Linked DNA regions of Homo sapiens. The protein of the gene in region 6 interacts with the protein of the main gene of each other region in a biochemical or structural test. Each region holds a gene or a part of one and is shown on either strand. Other genes may lie near its edges.

The links.
Region 1: the proteins of SP1 (region 6) and SMAD4 form a complex in vitro, tested with the Homo sapiens proteins (one study listed by BioGRID).
Region 2: the proteins of SP1 (region 6) and RORA form a complex in vitro, tested with the Homo sapiens proteins (one study listed by BioGRID).
Region 3: of the proteins of SP1 (region 6) and MAPK1, one has a biochemical effect on the other in vitro, tested with the Homo sapiens proteins (2 studies listed by BioGRID).
Region 4: the proteins of SP1 (region 6) and NAP1L1 form a complex in vitro, tested with the Homo sapiens proteins (one large-scale study listed by BioGRID).
Region 5: of the proteins of SP1 (region 6) and PRKCZ, one has a biochemical effect on the other in vitro, tested with the Homo sapiens proteins (one study listed by BioGRID).
Region 7: the proteins of SP1 (region 6) and KLF6 form a complex in vitro, tested with the Homo sapiens proteins (one study listed by BioGRID).

What each region holds. Positions count from the first base shown.
Region 1 is NC_000018.10:51,057,513-51,061,537, forward strand, and holds part of SMAD4 (mothers against decapentaplegic homolog 4), read left to right. Parts: intron 1-612; coding exon 613-732; intron 733-827; coding exon 828-944; intron 945-2,353; coding exon 2,354-2,404; intron 2,405-4,025. UniProt on the Homo sapiens protein: In muscle physiology, plays a central role in the balance between atrophy and hypertrophy. When recruited by MSTN, promotes atrophy response via phosphorylated SMAD2/4.
Region 2 is NC_000015.10:60,501,671-60,505,695, reverse strand, and holds part of RORA (nuclear receptor ROR-alpha), read left to right. Parts: intron 1-66; coding exon 67-188; intron 189-2,028; coding exon 2,029-2,161; intron 2,162-2,828; coding exon 2,829-2,936; intron 2,937-4,025. UniProt on the Homo sapiens protein: Nuclear receptor that binds DNA as a monomer to ROR response elements (RORE) containing a single core motif half-site 5'-AGGTCA-3' preceded by a short A-T-rich sequence.
Region 3 is NC_000022.11:21,804,901-21,808,925, forward strand, and holds part of MAPK1 (mitogen-activated protein kinase 1), read right to left. Parts: intron 2,947-4,025; coding exon 2,764-2,946; intron 1,140-2,763; coding exon 950-1,139; intron 1-949. UniProt on the Homo sapiens protein: Serine/threonine kinase which acts as an essential component of the MAP kinase signal transduction pathway. MAPK1/ERK2 and MAPK3/ERK1 are the 2 MAPKs which play an important role in the MAPK/ERK cascade.
Region 4 is NC_000012.12:76,074,558-76,078,582, reverse strand, and holds part of NAP1L1 (nucleosome assembly protein 1-like 1), read left to right. Parts: intron 1-4,025. UniProt on the Homo sapiens protein: Histone chaperone that plays a role in the nuclear import of H2A-H2B and nucleosome assembly.
Region 5 is NC_000001.11:2,168,778-2,172,802, forward strand, and holds part of PRKCZ (protein kinase C zeta type), read left to right. Parts: exon of another isoform or gene 1-673; intron 674-716; coding exon of another isoform or gene 717-740; coding exon 741-827; intron 828-3,277; coding exon 3,278-3,413; intron 3,414-3,523; coding exon 3,524-3,611; intron 3,612-4,025. UniProt on the Homo sapiens protein: Calcium- and diacylglycerol-independent serine/threonine-protein kinase that functions in phosphatidylinositol 3-kinase (PI3K) pathway and mitogen-activated protein (MAP) kinase cascade, and is involved in NF-kappa-B activation, mitogenic signaling, cell proliferation, cell polarity, inflammatory response and maintenance of long-term potentiation (LTP).
Region 6 is NC_000012.12:53,404,011-53,408,035, forward strand, and holds part of SP1 (transcription factor Sp1), read left to right. Parts: intron 1-2,574; coding exon 2,575-2,743; intron 2,744-4,025. UniProt on the Homo sapiens protein: Transcription factor that can activate or repress transcription in response to physiological and pathological stimuli.
Region 7 is NC_000010.11:3,778,613-3,782,494, reverse strand, and holds part of KLF6 (Krueppel-like factor 6), read left to right. Parts: intron 1-280; coding exon 281-854; intron 855-2,265; coding exon 2,266-2,389; intron 2,390-2,904; coding exon 2,905-2,956; 3' UTR 2,957-3,882.

The DNA.
Region 1 (4,025 bases), on a different chromosome or scaffold from region 6:
AAATTTGAAAGTAGACTGATAGTTTTTTTGTTTGTTTTTAACCAGTAAATGGTATATTGATTGGACAGCAGAGCTAGATCTTTTTAACTTCCTCATCTTCACTATCACATCCTATTTAAAATAATTTTCTGCTCTGCTTTTCTCTGTCAAACCCTAGCATTCTGCCATTACTAGTATCAGTGCTGATAGTGATTAATTTTTCAGTTTTCAACATTTTCTTGAGCCTGGATTTTTGGGGTCCTAATCAGAAAGGTCCAGAGAGAGAGGTGGATGGAGTGGCCAGGATGAACTGACATACCTCTGAAGAAGTTAATATGATAGGCCAGACGTACAGTGGTGTTTTGCTGGCATTTGAAATATGTTTGTGAAGAAATAAGCCACTACAATTAGTTAGACATTACCTAAAATGGAATAATTTTGAGCTTCCTCAAGTTAAAGTTTGCCTTTATAGATGACTGTAGGTTTTTTACCTGATAGGCCATGGGTGAGTTACACTTTTTGCCCATCTTTATAGTTGTGCATTATCAGATAAAATTGGTCCTTCATTTAGTATATGAAATCATAAGATGACATCTATGAATGTACCATGTTAATGTCTTCTTGTTCCTCTAGGTCAGCCTGCCAGTATACTGGGGGGCAGCCATAGTGAAGGACTGTTGCAGATAGCATCAGGGCCTCAGCCAGGACAGCAGCAGAATGGATTTACTGGTCAGCCAGCTACTTACCATCATAGTATGTACATACTTTAAAAAATCTTTTAAATAGTTGAGAAAAAAGTAGGCAGCCTTTATAAAAGCAAATTAACCCATGTGGGCCTTAATTTTTAGACAGCACTACCACCTGGACTGGAAGTAGGACTGCACCATACACACCTAATTTGCCTCACCACCAAAACGGCCATCTTCAGCACCACCCGCCTATGCCGCCCCATCCCGGACATTACTGTAAGCTCTTGTTTTTGTTGTAAGGGCTATTTTTTTTTTTTTTTTGGTAGGGCTTTGTTTTCTGTTTTTTAAAAATGTTTTTACATCTTTTATTCATCCTGTGATTTTGTTTCATTAAATAGTGCTTTTCAGTATTTTTTGTAAACAGTATTATTTTTCATAGTTATCCTACCTTTTTATTTTAGAGGAGTGATGTTTGCTAAATACATTTATTTCTCTGTTGCTAATGTTTCATTAACATCACATTGATTTCCATTCATTTGTTTGTTTGCTTTGTATATGTTCTTAGATCTCATCTGTGTCTTGTATATCCACGCATAATGGATTGAAACCCTTTGAGTGCTAAGTTCTCAAGGTTTCCCTCAGCGTAGTATTCAGTGTACTTTGGATAATGTTGAATCTATAGATAACTCTGTGCTGGCATGATTGGGAGGAATACCCTACAGATAACATGTAGTTTCAGGTAGAATAGGAGCATTGTTCATATGGCTTAGTAAAATCGAGAGTATAACTCTTATATACATTAAATCCCTTTCTTCTCATTATAATATTAATAGTACCAAAGAAAACTTAGAAAATATAGAAAAGTATAAATAAGAAAAGCAAAATTACCCTGAATCCTGCTACTCAAAAACAGCCACTTCTAATATTTTGTTATTTTCCTTCCAGTCATATAAACAGGTATATGTAAATTGACAGGGGCTCCTACTCTATGTGTATTGTATATATCTTGCTTCTTTTCAGTTATGTTACTATTTTTTCCATTTCTTAAGAGAATGTAATTTTTAATGGCTGCCTAGGCCGTCATAGTGTTGAAGGGTGCTGGGTTTGGACCTTTAACAGGCTGTGTGACCATTGACAAGTTATTTCACCTCATTAAGCCTCAAGAGTAATAATAGTAGTATCTACCTCAAGGGGTGTTCGTAAGAAGTAAACGTAATAATTTATGTGAGGTGTTTAGCACAGTGTTTTAACACATTACCAGTTTTCAATTATGTTAGCTATGATTCCATTAAATAAACATCCTTAATTAACATAAGCACTTGTTTTTAGAATAGACCTAACAGTTTATTATTATACATTGCATTATAAATTGTACTGTATTGGACGTTACATGAATAATTCATTTATGATCTGTATTAAATGTTGGATATAAAATTATGTGTAAATTGTGTAATAATAGCACTTGGCAGATAGCACTGAAATGTTAGTTATTAAATATCCACAAAAGTATTAATAGTTTAAGACTATTTGCTTATTGTAAACTTTTAAGTTCTTAGACATTGCATAAGCTTGTTTTAAACAATTCCTAACCTATAATAGTTATATTTAAGTAAGATTTACTGAAAGTTTTAGCATTAGACAACTTTTAGTAAATAAAAATGGAATTTTTGTTGTCTTTTCTTTAGGGCCTGTTCACAATGAGCTTGCATTCCAGCCTCCCATTTCCAATCATCCTGGTAAGTGTATTTCAAAATTGATTTCCTGTATTTAGATTGATTTAGTGGTGATTGAAACGCACAAACACAGGCTTTAATGGAATTATGGGGTCACTTCTCAGATGAGTACAATACTCATCATGACATGAGTTAATCAACAGTTTGAGTAGTCAATATAGTCACACATAGACTGTCTATATTTTATTCAGTTTAACTGTCCCCAAAAGAAAAGAACTATCTTTTCAGCTAAAATGAGAATTACAGAAATGCTGACTTCAGCATTGAATACATAAATATGCAGCAGAATAAAACTAGGTTTCAAAATAGAACAGCTGTAAAACTATAGCTTAAAAAGCCAGGAAAGAATCTTAAGTACATGCCGAAAAGAAAAATAATTCACTCTATTCAGGATCTCTGGTTAACTGGAATTTAGAAACTATTTGATTAAATTGTATGCAAAAGAGTAAATCGCTAAGTAGCTTTCTTCAGTTCAAAGTTTGTGTATAATTTTTGAAACTGTAGAGGTAATAAAACAGAAAACACTTGAAAATAAAATACTGAAAGTCCCTTGTAACACAAACATAGATTTTGAATTTTTTTCTCATCCTTTCGTATCTGTTTTTCTTAGCATAAAAAGATGCAAATATATTACTTCAGCTAATCACCTTAATTTTTTGGAAACTATAAACTCAATTTTCCTCCTAATTAAAAGAAAATTATGAAGAATTATATTTTTATTTTTACTTGTTTATTTTTGAGAGAGGGCCTGGCTCTGTTGCCCAAACTGGAGTGCAGTGGCATGATCTCAGATTACTACAGCCTTGACCTCCTAGTCTCAAGCGATCCTCTCACCTCAGCTTCTAGAGTAGCTGGGACTATAGGCAAGGGCCACCATGCCTGGCTAATGTTTGTATTTTAGTAGATAACAGGGTCTCACCATGTTGCCCAGGCTGGTCTCGAACTCCTGGGCTAAAGCAGTCCTCCTGCTAATAATTTTATTTATTTATTTATTTATTTATTTTTTTCCGAGATGGGATCTCGCTATGTTGTCCAGGCTGGTTTCGAACTCCTAGCCTCAAGTGATCCTCCTGTCTTAGCCTCCCAAAGTGCTGGGATTATAGACGTGAGCCACCACACCAAGCTTGAAAAATTAAAAAAATATATTTTTAAATGATTTTATTTTTGATCTTTGTGGGTACATAGGAGATGTATATATTTATGGGGCACATGAGATGTTTTGATACAGGCATATAATGCATGATAATCACATCATGGAAGATGGGGTATACATCCCTTCAAGCATTTATCTTTTGTGTTACAATCTATACTCTGTTAGTTATTTTAAAGTGTACAATTAAATTATTGGCTACAGTCACCCTGTTGTGCTGTAAAATATTAGACCTTATTCATTCTAACTACTTTTTGTACTATTAACCATCCTCACCTTCCCCCAATCCCCCACTACCTTTCCCAGCCTCTGGTAACCATCCTTCTACTCTCTGTCTCTATGGGTTCAATTGTTTTGATTTTTAGATCCCACAGATAAGAACATGTGATGTTTGTCTTTCTTTGCCTGGGTTCTTTCACTTAACATAATACCTCCAGTTCTATCCATGTTGTCTCAAGTGACTGAATCGCATTT
Region 2 (4,025 bases), on a different chromosome or scaffold from region 6:
TATTAAATCACCAATTATTCAAAGAACTTCGCTTTTCGTGTTTGTGATCTCCCGTTTTCTCCTTAGAACACCTTGCACAGAATATATCTAAATCGCATCTGGAAACCTGCCAATACTTGAGAGAAGAGCTCCAGCAGATAACGTGGCAGACCTTTTTACAGGAAGAAATTGAGAACTATCAAAACAAGGTATGATCTGAGGAATTTTTCCTCCTAGGATTGAGGCAATATTGGGAAGGGTGTTGGTATAGGAAAGTTGGTCAAGAGTTCACACAGACTAAAGAATGAATGTCATCAGGTTTCTGTTTAAATATCTTTTTTCTGAAGCTACTAATGTACTTGAGGCTTTGCCATTTAACTCAGATGCAAAATTTCAGCAATAGCAAATAATTTCTATTGTGCTTTCTAGGTATACACATACCTCCTTCCATTTGTCAACAGGAGAATAGATTAAGCAGCTTCCAAAAGTCTAAATGAATTGAGAATTGTCTCAATATCACAATCAAGATTTTAAGGTCTGGAAGTTTATGTAAAATAATCTCAGCCTAATGTTTCTGGAAGTTGACAAGGAAGCCTCATGTTTCTGGAAGTTGTATTAGGGAGTATATACAAAAAAAATTTAGAAGCTGTGATCATAACTCCAGTCTGAACCTAGCAATATGAGGCTGACAAATAGTACCCTACTTGCCTTTTTCTGTAAAACACCCAGATCAACAAGATTATCTAAGTGAATCCATTTTACATTTGAGGAAAACTAACATCCACTGGCATGTCTGGAGAGTGAAACATCAAGACCAGACCTTGACTCCTGGCTCCTAATTCAGTGTTTCTTCCACCCCATCATATCGGTGGGAACAGTCTGAAACTAAGATTGGGGAAACAAGTTAGCAACGAAAAAGATCCAGACCATTCTGTAACTGAAATGGAGAGTGCGAATATAAAAGGAATTTAACAGGACATGTTGGGGAATAGCAACACATTGCTTTGTTTGCCTTTGAGGTAGCAGGTAATGCCAGCAGCCAAAGCTACAAAGGAGAAGCAAGAAAACAGTAAGAAGCAACAAAGTATATGAAATAGGATTTTAGAGTCAGAGATGCTTGGATTTGAATCCTGGCTCCCATATCCACCAGTTTTTTGTTTTGTTTTGTTTTGAGACAGTCTCACTCTGTCGCCAAGCTGACACTTGCACTGGCGCAATCTCGGCTCACTGCAACCTCCGCCTCCCGGGTTCAAGTAATTCTTCTGCCTCAGCTTCCCAAGTAGCTGGGAGTACCGGTGTGTACCACCACGCCTGGCTAATTTTTGTATTTTTGGTAGGAACAGGGTTTCACCATGTTAGCCAGGCTGGTCTTGAACTCCAGACCTCAAGTGATCCCCCTGCCTCGGCCTCCCAAAGTGCTGGGTTTACAGGCGTGAACCACCGTGCCCAGCCAGAAAAAATATTCTTATGAAAGTGAATTAAAACAAGGATGTCATAAAGCGCCTAGCTCATAGTAGGTGCACAATAAATTCAGTTGATTCTCCTTTTCTCCCTTCCCCCAAAGTAAAGTGGTGTTAAATTTCCCAAGGCAAAATAATTACTTAAAAGAAGATCCAGACCGGGCACGGTGGCTCATCCCTGTAATCCCAGCACTTTGGGAGGCCCAGGCAGACAACACTTGAGGTCCGGAGTTCAAGACCAGCCTGGCCAACATGGTGAAACTCTGTCTCTATTAAACATACAGAAATTAGCTGGGTGTGGTGGCAGGTGCCTCTAATCCCAGCTACTCAGGAGGCTGAGGCAGGACAATCACTTGAACCCAGGAGGCAGAGGTTGCAGTGAGCTGAGATTGTTCCACTGCACTCCAGCCTGGGTGACAGAGCGAGACTCCATCTCAAAAATAAAATAAAATAAAATAAGATCCCACTTTGCCACTCTTCGTGGCCCAGGGCTAAAGCAGTGGCATGCTTTGCTTTCATAACTCTGCAGCTTCTGCTACAAAAGCTAACATCTTCCTGGAGGATGTTAATGTGTTTCCCTCTTTAACAGCAGCGGGAGGTGATGTGGCAATTGTGTGCCATCAAAATTACAGAAGCTATACAGTATGTGGTGGAGTTTGCCAAACGCATTGATGGATTTATGGAACTGTGTCAAAATGATCAAATTGTGCTTCTAAAAGCAGGTATGTGCTTTGCAAGTGAATTTTGAGATCTCTTCCTAACCTGCTTTCACCCGCTTATTAAAGAAATGCTTGGTAAGGAAGGTGTCGGGAACAGTTTTTCTCCAATGATAATAGCTCAGGTTTTTCTTAGCAGAAATGGAGTTCTTTTCAAAGGTTTTAAGATATATTCAGGAAACATTCCCCCCACTTTTCTTCTCTTCTGGGTGAAAAGATTAATTTGAAGGTCACCTACATTCCCAAATTTTCCCATCACGTGTGTTTTGTTTCTACACTCCAAGTCCTCCGAGTTTATGATGTTAGGAAGAAGAAAGTAGAACTCAGAAAGATATACTTGTTTTTGATTCTTGGTTTTAGTACATATGAATAAATGCTTTCCTAGCAACTCTGAGACTCTGCATTGCGAGGTAGAAGAGTGCTAAGGAAGTAATTTATAAATCAACCCTCACTTCAGTTAAACAGGGCTTAGCTTCAGCACAACAGTCTTTTAATTACATAGAAAACTCTGCCCTTTTGGATAGACAGCTGATGTGACTGAGAACCCGCTAGCTAAACTGCACACGACACCCACCATGCTGTTGCAGAAGGAGTCTCTACATGAGCAGCTTAGAAACAAACTCACTAACATCAGATGACCCAAATGACCCAAACCATTTCTGCCTCTGCTTAGGTTCTCTAGAGGTGGTGTTTATCAGAATGTGCCGTGCCTTTGACTCTCAGAACAACACCGTGTACTTTGATGGGAAGTATGCCAGCCCCGACGTCTTCAAATCCTTAGGTAAGGGGATATCAAGGTGCCTTTTCTTCAAATCAGGGCTATAGGAAAAGATGCGGGTTGAGTGAAAGCTCTGCTTGGACAAAATGAAAACTTTATTTAGAAACAAAAATTAAGGGGTTTTATACCTATTTTACTTTCTAGTTAGTCACTGTAGAAAAGTCATATAGCTCAAAAGTTTTTTGTCTACATTACTTGTAAAGATGTAGAGTTTCATTTTATCTAGTTGGTAATCAAAGGGATTTATATGACGTGTCCTTCCAGTTCCCTTCCAGATTTTAAGAAACCAGATTTGCTGGTGATATATTATTCGGATGACCTTTAGGATGTGAGCTGATACATAAAATTAAGCAAAGGGCAAAAGCTTTGCCCTTCCATCCCCCTCAAACAGTAACCATTAATGAGACTGAAATGCAGATATCAAAGAAATAAAAGTTACAGTTAAGTGAAACCATGATATATAATTTATAATAAATAATTTGGGGCCAGGTGCGGTGACTCATGCCTGTAATAGCAGCACTTTGGGAGGCCAAGGCAGGCGGATCACCTGAGGTCAGGAGTTTGAGACCAGTCTGGCCAACATGGCAAAGCCCATCTCTACTAAAAATACAAAAATTAGCTGGGCATGGTGGCACACGCCTGTAGTCCCAGCTACTCAGGAGGCTGAGGCAGGAGAATCACTTGAAACCGGGAGGTGGAGGTTTAACTGAGCTGAGATCATGCCACTGCACCCCAGCCTGGGTGACAGATTGAGACTCTGTCTCAGAATAATTAATAATAAATTTTGGATTTCTATAATTTAAATAAAATGAACATAGTTATTAAGAAGAATGGATAAGTATCTAAAATGAGTGATTTTTTTAAAAGTTATATGACAGATGATATATATAATGAACTGTCATGTAGCACATTGTCATTTAAATATATACATTTATATGTAAAATATGCAAATCTGAAGGAATAGACACCAAACTTAACCAGTCTTTTGGAAAACGGATTATTATTCTAGGGGACTTTCACATTCTGTGTTTTCAGGTTGGTAAATAGTTATAATAGTTTTACCACCAGAATATGTCATTTGTTAACATTTTT
Region 3 (4,025 bases), on a different chromosome or scaffold from region 6:
TCTACAAAAATACAAAAACAAAGAAAAATTAGCCAGGCGTGGTGGCAGGTGCCTGTAGTCCCAGCTACTCGGGAGGCTGAGGCAGGAGAATGGCGGGAACCTGGGAAGCAGAGCTTGCAGTGAGCTGAGATCGCGCCACTGCACTCCAGCCTGGGTGACAGAGCGAGACTCCATCTCAAAAAACAAACAAACGAACAAAAAAACTAACACATAATGTACGTGATCCTGTTTATCTATATAAAGTATAAAAATACACATGTATGCAAGAGCATAGAAAATACTTTGGGAGAAAATACACTTTGTTTTTTAGGACAGAGTTTTGCTTTGTCACCCAGGCTGGCGTGCAGTGGTGTGATCTCGGCTCACTGCAACCTCCGCCTCCCAGGTTCAAGCGGTTCTCCTACCTCAGCTCCCATGTAGCTGGGATTACAGGCGCATGCCACCACGCCCGGCTGATTTTTGTATTTTTAGTAGAGATGGGGTTTCGCCATGTTGGCCAGGCTGGTCTTGAACTCCTGACCTCAGGTGATAAGGCCCACCTTGGCCTCCCAAGGTGCTAGGATTACAGGCGTGAGCCACCGCAACTGGCCACCAATTTGTTATAGTAGTTAGTTATCACGGCCTGGTGCTGTGGCCCACATACATAATCCCAGCACTTTGGGAGGCCAAGAAAGGAGGACTGCTTGAGCCCAGGAGTTCCAGACCGGCCTGGGCAACATACTAAGACTCTGTCTTTAAGAAAAAAAAAAAAAAGGTATCTCTGGGGAGAAAGGAGCAATGGGATAAGGAAGAAGAAGAGGACTACCACACTTTATTAGCATTTTTGCCATAAACATGTTTTTGGGTATTTCTGGTGTAATTTAAAATATGAATAATGACAAATATAACTATGCTTCAGTGAAAGGGTTTTTCAATATATATCACCTTAATAGTAAATAACCTGGCTGACCTTGAGATCACAGGTGGTGTTGAGCAGCAGGTTGGAAGGCTTGAGGTCACGGTGCAGAACGTTAGCTGAATGGATATATTTTAACCCTCTGAGGATCTGGTAGAGAAAATAGCAGATATGGTCATTGCTGAGGTGTTGTGTCTTCAAGAGCTTGTAAAGATCTGTTTCCATGAGGTCCTGTACTATATATCTGTTTGCACAGGTTAAGGTAAAACACCAATTAGCTGGTCACATTTAGCAAAGCATTGAAAACAAAAATGCATCCTCTCTTGACTCTCTTCCCAAACAGTCCATCATTACACCATGAAGCCCTTAAAGGAAAGAAGAAACTGAGGAAAACTTGGTTTCCTTCATGGAAAGAATCTGAAGTCGTTAACTCCTTTTAGGTCCTGTGAGATGGCAGGCATTCCAGCATTACATCTGACTGATGCGGCTATGGGCCTAGACTGAGATCTGAAACAGGCTGTTAGGGAAATTCTGGTCAATCTTGAAGTCTCAACCTCTTTGCTCTCTAAATTGTCCACCATCAACGAACCCCCTCCAAGGTTTGCTGGAAACACTGTTAGCCTGTAAGTAGCAGATACTCCCTCCTCTGTTTGGTCCAGTAACCTGTAATGTCACTATTCTTTTTACTTCTTGTTGCCGCTCCCCTCCTCTCCCAAGCTCCTCAAAAGCCAAACATAAAACTTCCAGAAATACAGGTCTAGAAACATACTCTTACTAGTAAATCCAACCCTAAGTCTATTTTCTTGACTCTTCCATTACTGTTAAGATCTTAAATAAGTAAGACTATGGGCAAGTCGTTCTAAGAAGGGGTTTGTGCTAGTTTTCCTCCTCATGCTTTCTTGCCTGGTCACGTACTTAACTACCTAAAAGTTTAGCTATGGCTACTTTCTTTCTCACAGAAATTAAATTATTAAAGCATTTAGCCTTTAACTTCATCATAGTATTATTTCATTAGCAGTATTTCTACATTTCTTTTACTCACTTCTGTGTAAACACTAGTCTCTGTTTCTTACAGATTTATGCTATAGGAGGCGCAGCATGGGATTCAAAGGAAACATGATTTAAAAATCTGTCATCTGAGAGAGGCTTATTTTCATGGCAAAAAGTAAAGCAGGACCAACAGGTGGTAGTGGCAGGAGGCATTTCACTTCAAATATCACTACAACTTATTAACAGAGCTGTTTAAAAATGGAAAGGGCTGCCTAGAAACAGCGAGCTCCCGCACCCTGGAGGGGCGGAATACAAATTGGGTAAACTGGTAGGAGTGCTGTATAACCCTTTCCCTTCTGGCAGATCCTCTTCAGTATACTTAACCTCTCTATCTTTCAAATGGAGCCTTTACCCAGGCAGCATCCTCTAGATCTGTTCAGTCCAGATTTCTAAATGTTGGTCAGAGTTAATCACATAATTTCAGACCTCAGTTGACCTTAAAGATCATGACGACCAGTTCCTTCATTTTAAAGGTGGGGAAACTGAGACCTAAAGTGGTAACCTGACTCTTAAGATCAGGACAGTCCTGATTTCACCAGGTAGATAGCCAGGGCACCCTCTTTCTTAGTCTACTACTGATCTTCCCTTTACCTTTTCATCATCACAACAAACCATCCCTTGGACAGAAGAAACATGACTGCAAACAGAGTTAACCAAGATTTTCCATGACTAGACTTAGGGAGTAAATAGCAAACAGATTACGATTTTCCCTTTAGCATGTTTAATGCACTTTTCCTTTAAGTTCAGGAAATTTCAAGTTCTATTTACTCAACAAGGTTACCAAGCAGTGGAATTGGCCAGTTGCCTAAAAAGGATACACATCTTTCATTTGCTCGATGGTTGGTGCTCGAATAATGTCATTGATTCCAATGATGTTCTCATGTCTGAAGCGCAGTAAGATTTTTATCTCCCTCAGGGTTCTCTGGCAGTAGGTCTGGTGCTCAAAGGGGCTGATTTTCTTGATAGCTACTCGAACTTTGTTGACATTATCATAAGCAGAGCTTAAAAAAGAGAGAGAGAGATGGCATTAAAAACAGCCCTCAGAATATTTGAAGAAGGCAAGTTGGTAAAGTATTATATTTTTAACACTGTGTAAACACCTGTTTCATACCCGTGAAGGCAGCATGTATATTATCCACAAAAAGGCCTCAAGCTAGGGAGGATGGATGCAACTGACATGAGAGAGCACACAGTGACTCTCAAAACTAACAGAGAACCTAGCCCTGTTAACTGGGTGAAAGTCTTGCCTTTATAAACCCAGAAATACACAAACAAGCATTCTCCCATTGTCTTAAACAGCAACTGCATTCTGGTGAGAGTAATCACTTCTGTCTCTGAAACACCTTCTTACTGTTGTATCAAATTCCTCTGACACAGAAGAAACATTCAAATAACCTACAACTGTACATCTTTATCCCTAACAAAAATGGACCCAAGAGAACACCTTGATTACTTCTATTAACTTTGTTTCTCTCACTTGCAAAACAACATGACCATTTCTTCCCCCAAGAAACTGAATCAAGATGTTTGGGTAGTTTTATAACAAAACCTAGAAAAGTATTCTTCAAAAAACATATTTGTGGCAATAACATGGGGCCCAGTTCTTTCCTAGTTGTCCTTAATGTCTGATAAACCAGAATTATAAGCAAAAGCAATAATAAAAATTATACCTTCAATTTTATGAATTTGAATCTTGAGTATTACTACTATCTTTATGATAAACATTCTATTACAATCTTGTGTATAAGAAATTTTCATATTAATAAATGTCAACATCTGGCCCACTGACCAAAGCAATCAAATAACATTGACAGGCAGTAAGACAACATTTCTTGTTTCCTTGGGGTAAGTGCTAGAATAGAAAGCAGTAAAATAACTTTATTCTAAAATTTATGCTTCTAGGGCCGGGTGCAGTGGCTCACACCTGCAATCCCAGCACTTTGGGAAGCTGGGGCGGCTGGATCACTTGAGGACAGGAGTTTTGAGACCAGCCTGGACAACATGGTGAAACCCCGCCTCTACTAAAAATACAAAAAAATTAGCCAGGCATGGTGGCAAGTGCCTACAATCCCAGCTACTT
Region 4 (4,025 bases), about 23 Mb from region 6:
TTCAAACTTAGATCAAAGACAACCAGGCTTACTATGTCTGTAGGTATGTATTTGTTTATAGTCTGACAATTTTTAAGTCTTTGTGTAGGATTGATTTCTGTTATATTTTCTGTTTTTCCTGTTGGCTGTGAAAATTACTTGTATGAATTTTTTAAGGTCTAGAAGGAAGCTTTCATTTAATTTTGATATACAGGTGTCTGAATATACCAGGGACAGATCATTTTAAGTACATAGCTTGGGGTTTGGAGGGCAATACAGATGAGGTAAATTTGGGCTGTTTGTCCAGGAGAATGAATTTATTCTTGAGGATATAGCATTTTGGGGTTCCTGCTTAATTTGGGAGGGTTACCATAAAGATAGCCACCGTGGACAGGCCCAGAATTTTAACTTTGGTTAAAACCAAAGTTCACGTTGCTGATAATTGGCAGTTGACCTCAGTGCAAAAGTGCCTTCCTTCTGCTCCTGTTTTGCCCTCAGTTTTGGGCTGGTGATTCCTTACTATCTTGTTAGCATTTCAGTGCTTTTAAGATTTTTAACAAAATGTTTTTGTTAAAAAACATCTGTACTTTTAATTCTTTTCCTTTTTTTTTTTTTTTTTTTTTGAGACAGGGTCTTGCTCTTACCCAAGCTGGAGTGCAGCGGTGTGATCTCGGCTCACTGCAGCCTCCTCCTCTGGGTTCAAGCAATTCTCCTGCCTCAGCCTCCTGAGTAGCTGGGACTACAGGTGTGTGCAACCACGCCCGGCTAATTTTTTGTATTTTAGTAGAGACTGGGTTTCACCATTTTGCCCAGGCTGGTCTCTAACTCCTAAGCTCAGGCAATTCGCCTGCCTTGGACTTTCAAAGTGCTAGGATTACAGGCGTGAGCCACTGCGTCCGGCCATATTTTTCATTGGTAGAATTGATCTGCATAATCTAGTTTGTCGCTTTCAGGAATGAAAGTTTTTCACAGAGATCTTGGAATGCAATTTAATGTATAACAAATAAGATTCTCACTGATTTTATTTAATGTCAACTGCAGTAAAATATTAATACAGGTATTAACCTAAACTTGTGTTTCTCAATGTGGTCTACCTGAGAACCACCTCTCAGAAGCTGAGTTTCTTGTTTAGAATGCAGATTTTTGGGTCCCACTTCCTCAGATGTTTTTCTGCTTTATATAGATGATGAAATAGAGCCAGAAGTTGTTTGTCTTAGTTTGTAGATTGCTACAAAGTTGATGTCAGCCCAAATGATCTGACTACAACTGACTAGAAAATTAGGTCTATCTTACAACCAAGAAATACAATGTAGCCAGAATGGGCAGGTTAGAGCAGCCTTCTCTGGAGGAGTAAATGCCTCCTGTTAATGTTCTGTAAATGTTCTGTCTTGGATCCTCTTTACTAAAGTTTCATTTTAAGAATTTAAACTGTAAATGTAATGCTGCAAATGGACATTGAGGTTAGCAGTGTAGCCATTCTGTGAACACATTAAAATGTTACAAAAATTTAAATTTGGAAGTTTTAGGTTTTGTTTCTGTTTTTGACAATTGCTGGGTTTAGTAGACACTATATATTAAACCTAGCAAATCTCAGAATAAATTTGTGTATTGGAAATTATTATATAAATCTGTGTGTTGGAAAACCAAATGCAGTCATGCACCACATAAATACTTAGCCATTATATTAAAGTTGCCTATGGTATTCAATACAGTCACATGCTGTATAGGTGTGTAGCCTGGGAGCAATAGTCTATATCATAGCCTAGGTGCGTAGTAGGCTATACCATCTAGGTTTGTGTAAGTATACTCTGATGTTTGAACAACAATACAATCACCCAGAGACACATTTCTCAGAACATATAATCCACACATGACTGTAATGGTGAATGGGAAATTAGTTCTCATTACCCCCAGTCCCTTCTTTCTCATTAGGTTACTCTGGTTAGGTTTTTGGTGTTTGTTTTCAGAAAGGGTTTATTTGTATTAAAGTATGTGCGTATATGAGTGGAGATATATATATATATATATATATATATATATATATATATATATATTTCCATATCCAAAGGGGATTTCGGCATACATCCTATACCTTGCTTTAGTGTTCCTTCATATCAACTCAGATCTGTTTCATTTGTGACTGCAAAGCATTCCATTTTTGCATATTCCATTATAGTACTAAGTTTATAATAAGCTTTGTGTGCTACCCCAAAGAAGACAACGCTATGATTGTCAAGATCAGATTTAATTCCTGTAATCATGAATTTTGTCAGTTGGGAGAGACAGACCATAGGTCAAACTAATTTATAATTACAGACTGAGACATCTTATGGTGGAAAGAAAAGAAAGCTTTATAGGAGTGTGTGTACAACCAAGAAATCTTACTTAACCGGAATGTGCAGGTTGGAGAAAGCATCTCTGGGGAGTGAAACTTTGAAATGAGAGCCAAAGGATGTGCAGGACTTGTTCAGAGCTGTGGAAGAACCTTCTAGGTGAACATGGAAAGCAAAGGCATTAGATTCTTTATAATTTTTTCATGGTAGAGCTCATAAGTGAATAAATCTGGAGATGGACATATTTTGTTTTTTTAATTTTTATGTTTTTAAGAGACAGTGTCTCATTGTGTTGCCAAGGCTTGTCTTGAACTCCTGGCCTCAAGCGGTCCTTCTGCTTCGGCCTCCCAAAGTGCTGGGATTGCAGGTGTGAGCCATGGTGCCTGGCTGAGATGGACATGTTTAAGGCTTTTGATATTCCTATTGTCAGGTTGCTCTCCAGAAAAGATACGGGAACACTAGCTGGAAATAAGGATGCATGTGCACTACAGGTTTCCCTGTATTAAAAAGAAGTTATTGATGATGTGGTAGACAAACTGGAATCCTACTTGGATTTCTTTGATGTCAGAGTTCAGTATTTTTCTTATTTTTGATTAATATTCATAATTGCTAAACACTTTGTAAATGCTGACTCATTACCCAGCATCACTAGAAAAATTCATCAGTACTATTAGGAATTATTTATAACAAATACAAAATATTTACAGAGTTAGATACATTAGGAAGAATAATTTTCTTTATAATTACTCTAAAGGATAGATACTAGGTCAGTAATAATGTTTCCCCCAAATATTAGCACTTAACTGCTAAAATCAGGATGTTTTCCATTTTTAACTCTTTGTTCATAGGCATAATACGTTGCTATGAAAGTAAACACATGCAGGATTTTGTGAATTAAATATGTATTAAGATTTTAATTTTTACCAGATAACTTGATTCTATTTATTCATAATTTTTTTAGAGACAGGGTCTTGCTGTATTTCCCAGGCAGGCCTTGAACTCCTGTGCTCAAAAGATCTTCCTGTCTCTTGGGCAGCTGGGATTACAGGCTCTTGGGCAGCTGGGATTACAGGCTCGTGCCACTGTGCCTGGCTAAGATAAACTTGATTTTAACATGGATTCTATCTAAACTTGGTTTAGTTTTTTTTGGTAATCTGTAGATTACCTGTGGCATTCTACCATTTTTTTCTGCCTGGATATAACACATCTGCTTTAAGATTTGTTTTTCCAAAAGCAGTATTCTCCAGGTTCATACTAATCTTTTAGTGAGAAGGAACTTAGGATATCCTCTGGTGAGTCTTAACAGTAAACTTACTCAGGTCTGGTAACCACAAGTCTTGACAATGTCCCTAGCATATCTAGGGGAAGCTGGAGGTTGGTGGTTGTCAGTTATCTAACATGAGGTACATGTACATTTGGAGAGATAGGGAAGGCTTACCTAACATTAAGATTGGGACCTAGAGCTTTTGAAATAGTCTAAATGGCTATTTGATCCAGGGATTAAGTCTTTTAAAAAGATATCCAGAGGGCATAGTGAGTACAGTAGGCATCAGATTTTGGTTTTCTTAAACATGAATTACATAAAATGAATATTGCTAAATACGAAATGGATAAATGGATTTAAGATGCTACGTAGTCTAAAAATTTAAGCAGAAATTGACCTTTCTTGATTGTTGAAAGAATTTGAATGAAGATCCTTTTGTACTGTTCCTT
Region 5 (4,025 bases), on a different chromosome or scaffold from region 6:
AGGTGCCAGAGGAGCCGCTGACCTAAAAAAACCCGCCACAGGGTATTTCTGGGAGATTGTATGAGAATTTAATTTTGAAAATTGAGTCTCATGAAATGTAGGAAAAGATCTTATTAGGAAGAGAAACCATGTGGCCCAGTCCCTGAGACGGGAAGGGCCTGCGTGGTCCTGATGACATCTGCGGATCTTTTAAAATCATACGATCATGTCTGCGAAACCGGGATGCCACTTCCCACCTGGCTTCTCCCTGACCCCAGCTTGTTCCCTTGGAGGGCCGGTGGACTCCTCAGCCTTGCAGCAATGAAATCAGGCCTTGAGGCCACCCCACCCGTGACCTGCGGTGCTGTCCCCATGCAAGAAACTGCCTCGCTCCAGCCCCCAGCAGATCCTGTCCCAGCCCCCAGCCCTGGTCCAAGCCACCTCCACTCCCACCTGGTGACGGGCCACCTCCTTCATTCCGGGGCCCACCCACACTTCCCAAGTCCACACACAGTGGCCAAGAGTGAAGGCCGGCGAGGCCCCCGCATGACTCCCTCACCTGCACCCTTCACGAGCGGCCCCGCAGCCCGTCCCCACCAGCCCCTCTCTGCTGCCAGGGTGCTCCTGCTGCTCTTTGCTCTTTGCAAGACTGAACCTGCGGGAGGGTTCGGGCCCACGAAGGCCGCTTCTGTGGGGCTTCTGTCTAAGGAGGCCGCCGTCTGCCGAGGTGACTGCAGCCTCCGGCGCCTCTCTCCCTGCAGGTTGTTCCTGGTCATTGAGTACGTCAACGGCGGGGACCTGATGTTCCACATGCAGAGGCAGAGGAAGCTCCCTGAGGAGCACGCCAGGTGGGTGCGCGTGGACGGGGCCGGGTGGGTGCGCCCGGAGTTGGGGATGGGTGGGTGCGTGCGGTGTTGGGGGGCTGGGTGGGTGCGCACAGAGGGATGACGGGTGGGTGCGCGCGGAGTTGGGGGGCCGGGTGGGTGTGCGCAGAGGGGAGGTGGCTGGGTGGGGTGTGCACGGAGGGGGTATGACGGGGGCGGGGGGGGCGGGGTGCACGTGGAGGGGGCCGGGGACCTTCTCCAGGGGTCAGCAGGGAGCTCAAGGGAGGGAAGTCCAGGTAGGATGGCAGAGGGCATCATGTCCCCCACAGTGTGACGTCCCCTGCATTGTGACACATTCCATATTTGCTCCAGAGTCACAACATTTGGGAGGTCTCCTGAGTTATGGTGCCTCAGACCAGTCCCCCAGGCCCCACCCCTGAAGCAGCACCATGCCTCATCCGAGAGAAGTGAGAGTCTCCTGGGATTGTGCTGTCTTCATGGTGGCTCTGCCCTGGTTCTGCTCTTCACCCTGTTAGTGGCACAGCATGGCCAGCATTTCCTCAGCGTTAGGAGCAGAACGAGAGTGGTCTGTTTCTAGAGTGACCTGAGAGACTCCTTCCTGCCCTTCCCTTTCATCTCTGATATCTTCGGGCCTCCCCTGGCAGCCGAGGGGCCTCCAGCATGGTTCAGGAGCCTCCCCCGGCAGCCGCGGGACCTCCAGGACCGTTTGGGGGCTTATTTCAGCTCCCTGGACCTTTCCTGTCTTTTGTAGTTTCTCCTTTTCCTCATTTCCTTACTTAAGAACGTTGCATGCAGTTTTGTGAGTCACCTTAGATTGTTTCTGGCAATAGGACAGTAGGCAATAAATCTAGAACAGTACACTTCCCACAACGCTGTTTTTAAAAACTGTGGCAACACACAACATAAAAGGTAGCATTTTGGGGCATGGAATTCAGTGGCGTTGAATGCACCCCATGCTTTGCAGCCACTGCTGGCCCCCGTCTCATCTCCAGAGCACGCCCCTCTTCCCTGCTGAAGCTTGGCCCATCAGACACTCCCTCCCTGTCCCCCGCCCCAGCCTCACATCCTCACCCCAGACGGGCACGTCCCACTTTCTGTCCCTCTGATTCGAGGACTCTAGGGACCTCATCGGAGTGGAATCACAGTGTTGGTCCTTCGGTGGCTCATTTTCCTGAGCATAGCGTCCTCAAGATTCATCCGTGCTGTGGCCTGTCTCAGAATTGCCTTCCTTTTTCAGGCTGGATAATGCCCCGTTGGATGGAGGGGCCACACTTTGCTTATCCGTCCATCCCTCGGGGGGCACTTGAGTGGCATCCACATGTTGGCCATGGTGAACAGTGCTGCTGTGAACATGGGTGTGAAGTAATCTCTTGAACACCCTGCTTCCGGTTCTTTGGGGTATACACCCAGAAACTGAATTGCTAACCACATAAGAATTCCATATTTAGGCCGGGCGTGGTGGCTCACGCCTGTAATCCCAGCACTTTGAGAGGCCAAGGCGGGCGGATCACGAGGTCAGGAGATCGAGACCATCCTGGCTAACACGGTGAAATAACACAGTGAAACCCTGTCTCTACTAAAAATACAAAAAATTATCCAGGTGTGGTGGCGGGCGCCTGTAGTCCTAGCTACTCGGGAGGCTGAGGCAGGAGAATGGCGTGAACCTGTGGGCAGAGCTTACAGTGAGCCAAGATCGCGCCATTGCACTCCAGCCTGGGTGACAGAGTGAAACTCTGTCTCAAAAAAAAAAAAAAAAAGGTCATATTTAATTTTTTTTTTTTTTTGATGGAGTCTCGCTCTGTCACCCAGGCTGGAATGCAGTGGTGGGATCTCAGCTCACTGCAGCCTCTGCCTCCCAGGTTCAAGTGATTCTCCTGCCTCAGCCCCCAGAGTAGCTGGGACTACAGGTGTGCGCCACCATACCCGGCTAATTTTTTTGTATTTTTAGTAGAGACGGAGTTTCGCCATGTTGCCCAGGCTGGTCTTGAATTCCTGACCTCAGGTGATCTGCCTGCCTCGACCTCCCGAAGTGCTGGGATTACAGGTGTGAGCCACCAAGCCTGGCACCGTGTTTAATTTTCGAGGACCTGCCGGACTGTCTTCCGCAGCAGCGGCGCTGTTCTGCACTCCTACCACAACGTGCCATGGCTCCGGTCTTTCCCGCATGGAAGCTGTCGTGTTATTTGCCCGCTCCTCCCCTTGTGGAGGCTGCCACATCGTTCTCTGTGTCTTTGACAGCAGGCCATCCTAAGGCGCATGGGGTGGTGTCCTGGAGCTTTCATTGGCATTTCCCTCCCTGGCCCTGTGCACTGCACTTTCAAATCCTGGGCCTGGTCATTGAGAGGATGCCGGGCCCGTGGTGGGGCAAACGGGAGTGTGTGGCCCCCAGGCTGGAGCTGTTGGCGCAGCCTCTGGCACAGGCACTGCCCCCATGACGGCATCCCCACCCCCAGGTTCTACGCGGCCGAGATCTGCATCGCCCTCAACTTCCTGCACGAGAGGGGGATCATCTACAGGGACCTGAAGCTGGACAACGTCCTCCTGGATGCGGACGGGCACATCAAGCTCACAGACTACGGCATGTGCAAGGTGCGTGCCTTGGACCGCCTCCCCTGACCATCCCGCATGTGCGTCTCGGGGCGCCTGTCCCGCGGGGTAGTGTCTACAAGAACCCTCTCCCAGTAACTTTGCCCCCACAGGAAGGCCTGGGCCCTGGTGACACAACGAGCACTTTCTGCGGAACCCCGAATTACATCGCCCCCGAAATCCTGCGGGGAGAGGAGTACGGTGAGTGCCGCTGCCCTGGCCCCTCTCGGAGCACACAGGGCCAGAGATGGCTTCGGGCCTGGCCCAGCAGCCAGGGAGAGGTGTCCTTGACCATCTTACACCCAAAAGCCACACACTGTCTTTCCCAGCCGGATGTCATCATCTGGCCTCAGCCCCTTATTTGAATTCTGGAAAACCTCCCATGTCCACTTGAGCAGCTCCTTGGGGAGGGCACTGCACAGGATTCCTCCTGCCAGGGAGCCCCGGGGCACAGGGAGGGGAAAGACACAGAAAGCGGGGGTGGGACAGGGTGCAGCACCTGAGTCCCCGTGCTGCACGAGTGGCTGGGGGAGAAGCTGTTGTCTGGGGAGCCCCAGGGGGTGCAGGAGCGTGTGGACAGGACCCCACAGGCCCTGCGGCTGAGGACGCCGTGCA
Region 6 (4,025 bases):
AATACAAAAAGTTAGCCGGGCGTGGTGACGGGCGCCTGTAGTCCCACCTACTAGGGAGGCTGAGGCAGGAGAATGGCGTGAACCTGGGAGGCGGAGCTTGCAGTGAGCCGAGATCGCGCTACTGCACTTCAGCCTGGGCGACAGAGCGAGACTCCGTCTCAAAAAAAAAAAAAGGAAAGAAGTCTTGAGAAGAATATTATCTGCCACTTTATAAGATATTACTTTTGCGAAGAATATTATCAGCCGGGTGCGGTGACTCACGCCTGTAATCAGCACTTTGGGAGGCCAAGGCGGGCGGATCACAAGGTCAGGAGTTCGAGACCAGCCTGTCGAAGATGGTGAAACCCCATCTCTACTAAAAAAATACAACAAAATACAAAAAGTAGCCAGGGGTGGTGGTGGGTGCCTGTAATCCCAGCTACTCAGGAGGCTGAGGCAGGAAAATCGCTTGAACCCAGGAGGCGGAGGTTGCAATGAGTCAAGATTGTGCCATTGCACTCCAGCCTGGGCAACAAGAGTGTAACTCAGTCTCAAAAAAAAAAAAAAAAGAATATTATCTGTCACTTTTTACCAGTGGCCTAGAGCTGTGTTTGAAAATGTCAAATGTGACCAACTGAGTCATGATGAGAGTCTAAAGCATTTTAGCATACACTGTTTATTTATATATATTTTTTTGAGTTGGAATCTTGTTCTGTTGGCCAGGCTGGTGTGCAGTGATGTGATCATAGCTCACTGTAGCCTTAAACACCTTGGCTCAAGCAATCTTCCTCCCACCTTAGCCTCCTGAGTAGCTGGGACCATAGGCGCATGCCACCATGCCCAGCTAATTATTATTATTATTTGGCGACGAAGTCTCGCTCTGTCGGCCAGGCTGGAGTGCAGTGGCACAGTCTCGGCTCACTGCAACCTCTGCCTCCTGGGTTCAAGCAATTCCTGTCTCAGCCTCCCGAATAGCTAGGATTACAAGCGTACTCCACCATACCCAGCTGATTTTTTTTGTTTTGTTTTTGTATTTTTAGTAGAGATGGGGGTTTTACCATGTTGGCCAGGCTGGTATTGAACTCCTGACCTCAAGTGATCCAACCACCTCGGCCTCCCAAAGTGCTGGGATTACAGGCGTGAGCTACCATGCCCAGCCTATTATTTATTTTATAGACAGAGTGTCCCTATGTTGCCCAGGCTGGTCTTGAACTCCTAATCTCAAGCAGTTCTCCTGCCTCAGCCTTCCAAAGTGCTGAGGTTACAGGCAGAACCACATGTAAATATATGGGCATTGCTGGTTCAAATTAGATGTACATTTAAATATTTTCAAACTGGCCTTCAAAAAGTTGTATTAATTTATCACTATTTGTGTATGAAAATGTCTCTTTCCGGCTGGACATGGTGGCTCATGCCCACCCGTAATCCCAGCACTTTCGAAGGCCGAGGCGGGTGGATCACCTAAGGTCAGGAGTTCGAGACAGCCTGACCAACATGGTGAAACCCCATCTCTCCTAAAAATACAAAAAAGTTAGCCAGTCATGGTGGCATATACCTGTAGTTGCAGCTACTTGGGAGGCTAAGGCAGGAGAATCACTTGAACCCAGGAGATGGAGGTTGCAGTGAGCCCAGATAATGCCACTGTACTCCAGAGCCAGCGAGACTCTGTCTCAAAAAAAGAAAGGAAAGAAAAGAGAGAGAGAGAGAAGGAAGGAGGGAAGGAGGGAGGGAGGGAAGGAAGAGAGAGAGGGAGGGTCTGTTTTCCTGTACCCTTACCAATGCCGTATGTTATTAGGGTTTCAACTTTTGGTAATCTGATAGGTGAAAAATTACAAATGCGTTATAAGTGGAGTTGCATTTTAAAAACTATGATCGGGGGAGGGATAGCATTAGGAGATATACCTAATGCTAAATGACGAGTTAATGGGTGCAGCACATCAGTATGGCACATGTATACATATGTAACCTACACGTTGTGCACATGTACCGTAAAACTTAAAGTATAATAATAAAAAAAAACAACTATGAGATTTGATCAGATTTTTACGTATTTATTGGCTCTTGGTATTTTCTTTCTTTTTTTTTTTTTTTTTTTTTTTTGAGACAGAGTCTTGCTCTGTCACCCAGGCTGGAGTACAATGGTGCAGTCTCGCTAACTGCAACCTCCGCCTCCCGGGTTCAAGCAATTCTCCTGGCTCAGCCTTCCAAGGAGCTGGGATTACAGGCATGCGTACCATTCCCAGCTAATTTTGTATTTTTAGTAGAGACGGGATTTCTCCGTATTGGTCAGACTGGTCTTGAACTCCTGACCTCAGGTGATCCGCCCACCTCGGCCTCCCAAAGTGATGGAATTACAGGCGTGAACCACTGCGCCCAGCCACTCTTGGTATTTTCAATGATGATTCTTGAGATTTCAGTGAGTCTTCAGGTGTCAGTGAATGGAATGGCTAAACATAAAAAGGCTTCAAAACTTGTGATACTGTGAATGTAGGATGTCAGTTCAAAAGAAATGATGTTGTGACTGTAGGGTATCACTGAGATGCCAGTGATAACCTGCCCATGTCACATGTTGACCCTTTTCTCTCTTAATTTCAGGTGATCATGGAGCTCAGCTTGGTCTCCATGGGGCTGGTGGTGATGGAATACATGATGACACAGCAGGTGGAGAGGAAGGAGAAAACAGCCCAGATGCCCAACCCCAAGCCGGTCGGAGGACCCGGCGGGAAGCATGCACCTGCCCCTACTGTAAAGACAGTGAAGGAAGGTGAGTTGACCCAGCCAGTTTCTTACAAATATAAAGAAAAATTAATAGATTTGGAGATAAGAGGAAGAAGATTAATTTTTTTTTTTTTTGAGACCGAGTCTGACTCTGTTGCCCAGGCTGGAGTGCAGTGGCGCAATCTTGGCTCACTGCAAACTCCACCTCCTGGGTTCACGCCATTCTCCTGCCTCAGCCTCCCGAGTAGCTGGGACTACAGGCACCTGTCACCACACCCAGCTATCTTTTTTTATTTTTAGTAGAGACAGGGTTTCACTGTGTTACCCAGGATGGTCTCGATCTCCTGACCTCGTGATCTGCCCGCCTCGGCCTCCTAAAGTGCTGGGATTACCAGCGTGAGCCACCATGCCCGGCAAAGGTTAATTTTTTTTTTTAGGATTTAAGACTCAGAGCTGGATGCATATAATCCCAGCACTTTGGGAGGCCAAGATAGGAGGATCACTTCAGCCCAGGAGTTTGAGACCAGCCTCAGCAAGAAAGCGAGAGCCGATCTCTACAAAAATTTAAAAATTATGTGGGAATATTTTACTGGCCATAAAAAGAGAAAATGAAAAAAAAAAAAATTTTTTTTTTTTCTGAGACAAAGTCAGTCTGTGTTTCCCAGGCTGGAGTGCAGTGGCACATTCTTGGCTCACTGCAACCTCCACCTCCTGGGTTCAAGCAATTCTGCCTCAGTCTCCCGAGTAGCTGGGACTACAGGCGTGTGCCACCACGCCCGGCTAAGTTTTTCTATTTTTAATAGAGACAGGGTTTCACCTTGTTAGCCAGGATGGTCTTCATCTCCTGACTGTGTGATCTGCCCACCTCGGCCTCCCAAAGTGCTGGGATTACAGACGTGAGCCACTGCACCTGGCCAAAAAAATTTATTTATTTATTTTTTTGTTTTGAGATGGAGTCTTGCTCTGTTGCCCAGGCTGGAGTGCAGTGGCACAATCTTGGCTCACTGCAGGCTCCGCCCCCTGGGTTCACGCCATTCTCCTGCCTCAGCCTCCCTAGTAGCTGGGACTACAGGTGCCCGCCACCTCGCCCAGCTAATTTTTTGTATTTTTAGTAGAGACGGGGTTTCACCGTGTTAGCCAGGGTGGTCTCGATCTCCTGACCTTGTGATCCGCCTGCCTTGGCCTCCCAAAGTGCTGGGATTACAGGCATGAGCCATGGGGGCGCCCGGCCTTTTTTTTTTTTTAAGACAGATCTTCATCCGGGTACGGTGGCTCACGCCTGTAATCCCAGCACTTTGGGAGGCCAAGGCGGGCGGATCACCTGAGGT
Region 7 (3,882 bases), on a different chromosome or scaffold from region 6:
GCTTAGTGATCATCACTCATTGTGGCCCTTGGCCCAACATTGGGAAAGCCAGGAGAGGTTTCACCCTCCGACTTTTCCTCTGAATTCTTACCATTCTAGAAACAGATTTCCTCTAACTTCCGTAAGGACACGGATGCTTAATTACAAAAGGTTTTGCCCCTGTAGTGACCGGGCAGCAATGTTATCTGTCCTTCATTCTTGCATGTTTTTGGAAATTGCTTTTGCTTTTACTTTTGGTCGTCATGGCAATCACGTGCCTTCTCTGGTTCATTTTGCACAGACCTGCCTAGAGCTGGAACGTTACCTCCAGAGCGAGCCCTGCTATGTTTCAGCCTCAGAAATCAAATTTGACAGCCAGGAAGATCTGTGGACCAAAATCATTCTGGCTCGGGAGAAAAAGGAGGAATCCGAACTGAAGATATCTTCCAGTCCTCCAGAGGACACTCTCATCAGCCCGAGCTTTTGTTACAACTTAGAGACCAACAGCCTGAACTCAGATGTCAGCAGCGAATCCTCTGACAGCTCCGAGGAACTTTCTCCCACGGCCAAGTTTACCTCCGACCCCATTGGCGAAGTTTTGGTCAGCTCGGGAAAATTGAGCTCCTCTGTCACCTCCACGCCTCCATCTTCTCCGGAACTGAGCAGGGAACCTTCTCAACTGTGGGGTTGCGTGCCCGGGGAGCTGCCCTCGCCAGGGAAGGTGCGCAGCGGGACTTCGGGGAAGCCAGGTGACAAGGGAAATGGCGATGCCTCCCCCGACGGCAGGAGGAGGGTGCACCGGTGCCACTTTAACGGCTGCAGGAAAGTTTACACCAAAAGCTCCCACTTGAAAGCACACCAGCGGACGCACACAGGTCAGTGCCCACGCGGGCCCCGGAGGGCGGCCGCTGGTGGGCGCCACTGCATTGCACCAGCCCTGGAGGGAGCCGGGCCTGGCTGCACAGGATGTGGTCAGGGCAGACAAATCCTCACTTCCTCAGATGTTTTCCACCAAAGCATTAGGTCTTTTTGGAGTTCAGAGTAGAATCCTAAAGACTGGACTTTTGAGTTGGATAAATGTGTAACAATTTTCAGATTAAACAAACAAGAGACTAGATCCTTTTCTCCACGGACACCCAAACCTCCACCCCCCACCCCTTAGTAGTGCTGGGGATCCGAGGCCACTGCCCCTTCACCAGTGCACTCGCACGAGGCTACCTCGAGCGGCCCTGGGGTTTCCTAAATGAAACTCAAGGGTCAGGACAGAGGGTTGCTGGGCAGCGTGGAGTGTGTGGGTTTGATGCTGACGGCCCGAGGCCCGAGTGGGACCGGCCTGCTCTGTAAGCAGCAGCATTGATCAGCGAGTGTTTCCTGAGAACTTCTCCGTGTCTCATGCAGCCTTTGTTTCTGATACCGCTTGAAACAGTTTCTTAATGAAATGCCATACCTAGGTGAAAGTGCTATTTAAAAATACCTTGACATGTTCTAGGATAATTGGTGAGGAATCACAGAACATTTAGAACTGGGAAGGGTCTTAGTGATCACGTGATGCAGGCTCTTCTCTTATCAGTAGGAGAGCAAATTGCTGAGAGTCAGTCCCAGACAGGCTTGGTGACAGCTGAGATTGAGATCCGGGTGGCCCAATATCCAGGCCCAGGCCTGTCTCAACATACCCTGAGATTGGCTTGACAACTTTGTTTTCTCAGGTAGCACTTGTAGTAAATTCATATTTATGATTTGACCAAGGAATGAAGTGAACCCAGTTGTTCAATTGCCATTTAGAGAATGATTCCGGGGCCCTGTACTGGGGCTTTCCAGAAGCTCGTAACTTCAGCTTTGTAGAAAGGTAGAACGTCCCTGAGGAAACTGCAGAGGCACATTCCATAGGGAAGTGAGGATGGAACAGAAGTGTGTTTGGGAGAAACAGTTGCCATGAAGAAAGCAATAGCTCTGCCTTTGCCGGGGCTGTGGGTCCGGCAGGCTGACACCTCATCCCGCAAGCATTTTGCTGGTCTGAGTCGTGGTCGTTCTTCCACGTTAACTTTGATGACAGCACCATGGGCTTGGCTGAAGCTGTGTCCCTTGGACAGCAGTGGGAGGCCTGAGACTGGGTCAGGAGAGAGCTGCTGTTGTCTCTCTGAGGCTGCCAGTTGTTGTGTGTTACCGATGCCAGAAGCCACTGGGTCCCTGGCCTTGCATCCCACCACTGTGTGTGTTGTTGAATTTCCCCTTTCCGTCTGCGGGTCAGTGAAGTCATGGGCTGCTTGTCCTGTGCTCTCTCCCCAGGAGAAAAGCCTTACAGATGCTCATGGGAAGGGTGTGAGTGGCGTTTTGCAAGAAGTGATGAGTTAACCAGGCACTTCCGAAAGCACACCGGGGCCAAGCCTTTTAAATGCTCCCACTGTGACAGGTACGTGCCTGAGGACAATGCTGGGCAAGGAGCGTGGGGCCTTGGGAATGTGATGACCAGGGTTGAGTAGGTGTGCAGGGCACATTCGAAGGAAGGCATGCAGTTTCCTATGTGTGAACATTTCTTTTCAAGCCTGGGACTTTTTAGAAAGTTTCTGGTGTGCTCATTGTCCATGGTTAGGAAGAACTGTTCCACATACACCTGACATTGGAGTCAGTTTATTGATATGTTTGGAGATTGGCCTTTCAACAGTTTTCATATTTGAAGAATTAGAAATGAAGTCCGTTCAGATTCTCCAAAGAACCTCCAGCCACTGGTGGGGGACATTCTTAATTCACATTCCTATCAGTTGGTATCTCCTGTCCCTGAAGACACTGATGAGGCTTGGGAGGAGAATCCCACCTTTCCCTGCAGGGGGTTAGGCTGGGCAGGGCAGGGAGGTGAGGGCGCTGGTCCAGAACACTGGCAAGGGATGGGAACCTAACTTCTTCTGTGCTTCTGATTTGCCCTTGCAGGTGTTTTTCCAGGTCTGACCACCTGGCCCTGCACATGAAGAGGCACCTCTGAGGGAGCAGAGAGGTGGATCCTGTAGGCTAAAAGGCTTCCAGGCTGAGAGCCGGCCGTGGAAGGAGGGATGCGTGTTCCAGCCAAAGCATGCCGTTCTGCACCCTACCCAGTTGCCTCCAGGGCCTCTCCTTGGAAGGTCTTTTGAGGGCTAAAAAGGTCCTGTAAGAAGCGGCATAGCACCCGTGGTGCATGGTATGTGGGTGACCCTGGACTCGCCACTGGTACCCGCCCTTCCGAGCGGCGCCTAAGCCTTTGCCGTGAGCATGCACACTGAGAATGCTAATGGTTGGGTTGATTGTATGTTGAGGATCTATTACTGACCGTATGATGAGGCCAACTTTTTTTCCTTGTGGTTAGCAAGACTGCAAGAGATGGAAAAAAAGTAGTTTGAATGTTTTGTGTGTAAGGAGTATACCATGAGATGAGATGACCACCAATCATTTCCTTGGGGGGAGGGGGTGTCTGCACCTTAGAAAAAAAAAGAAAAATCAAAAAAACAAAAAAACAAAAACAAAAAAAGAAGGAAAATCTTGGAGGGTGGGCGTGGGAACTCAGGACCCCAGAGTGGCGAGTGGTGTGGGGAGGGAGAGCCTCTCTCCCCCTTTTCTGTGTGAGAGGAACTCTTAGTGTCTGGTGCAGCTATTAAATGTGCAATGTGTCAAGTAGCTTGTTTTACACGCTACAACATAGCTCATTTGTAACCCATTGTATAAGCTGTGTATTTACAAATATAACACAACAATTTAACTTTTCCTTAGAATACAAAAAGTCATGCATGGTCTGGGGAACTATATGCTTTTCCATTTTTAAGTCAGGACTGCAATACTGATTCCAGTTAATGAGCAGCTAAGATCCAATCTGTCTAATACAGTGACCCCCTAGCCATCCGGGCCTGGCAATATACAATTTTTTTTCCCCTCCAAGTT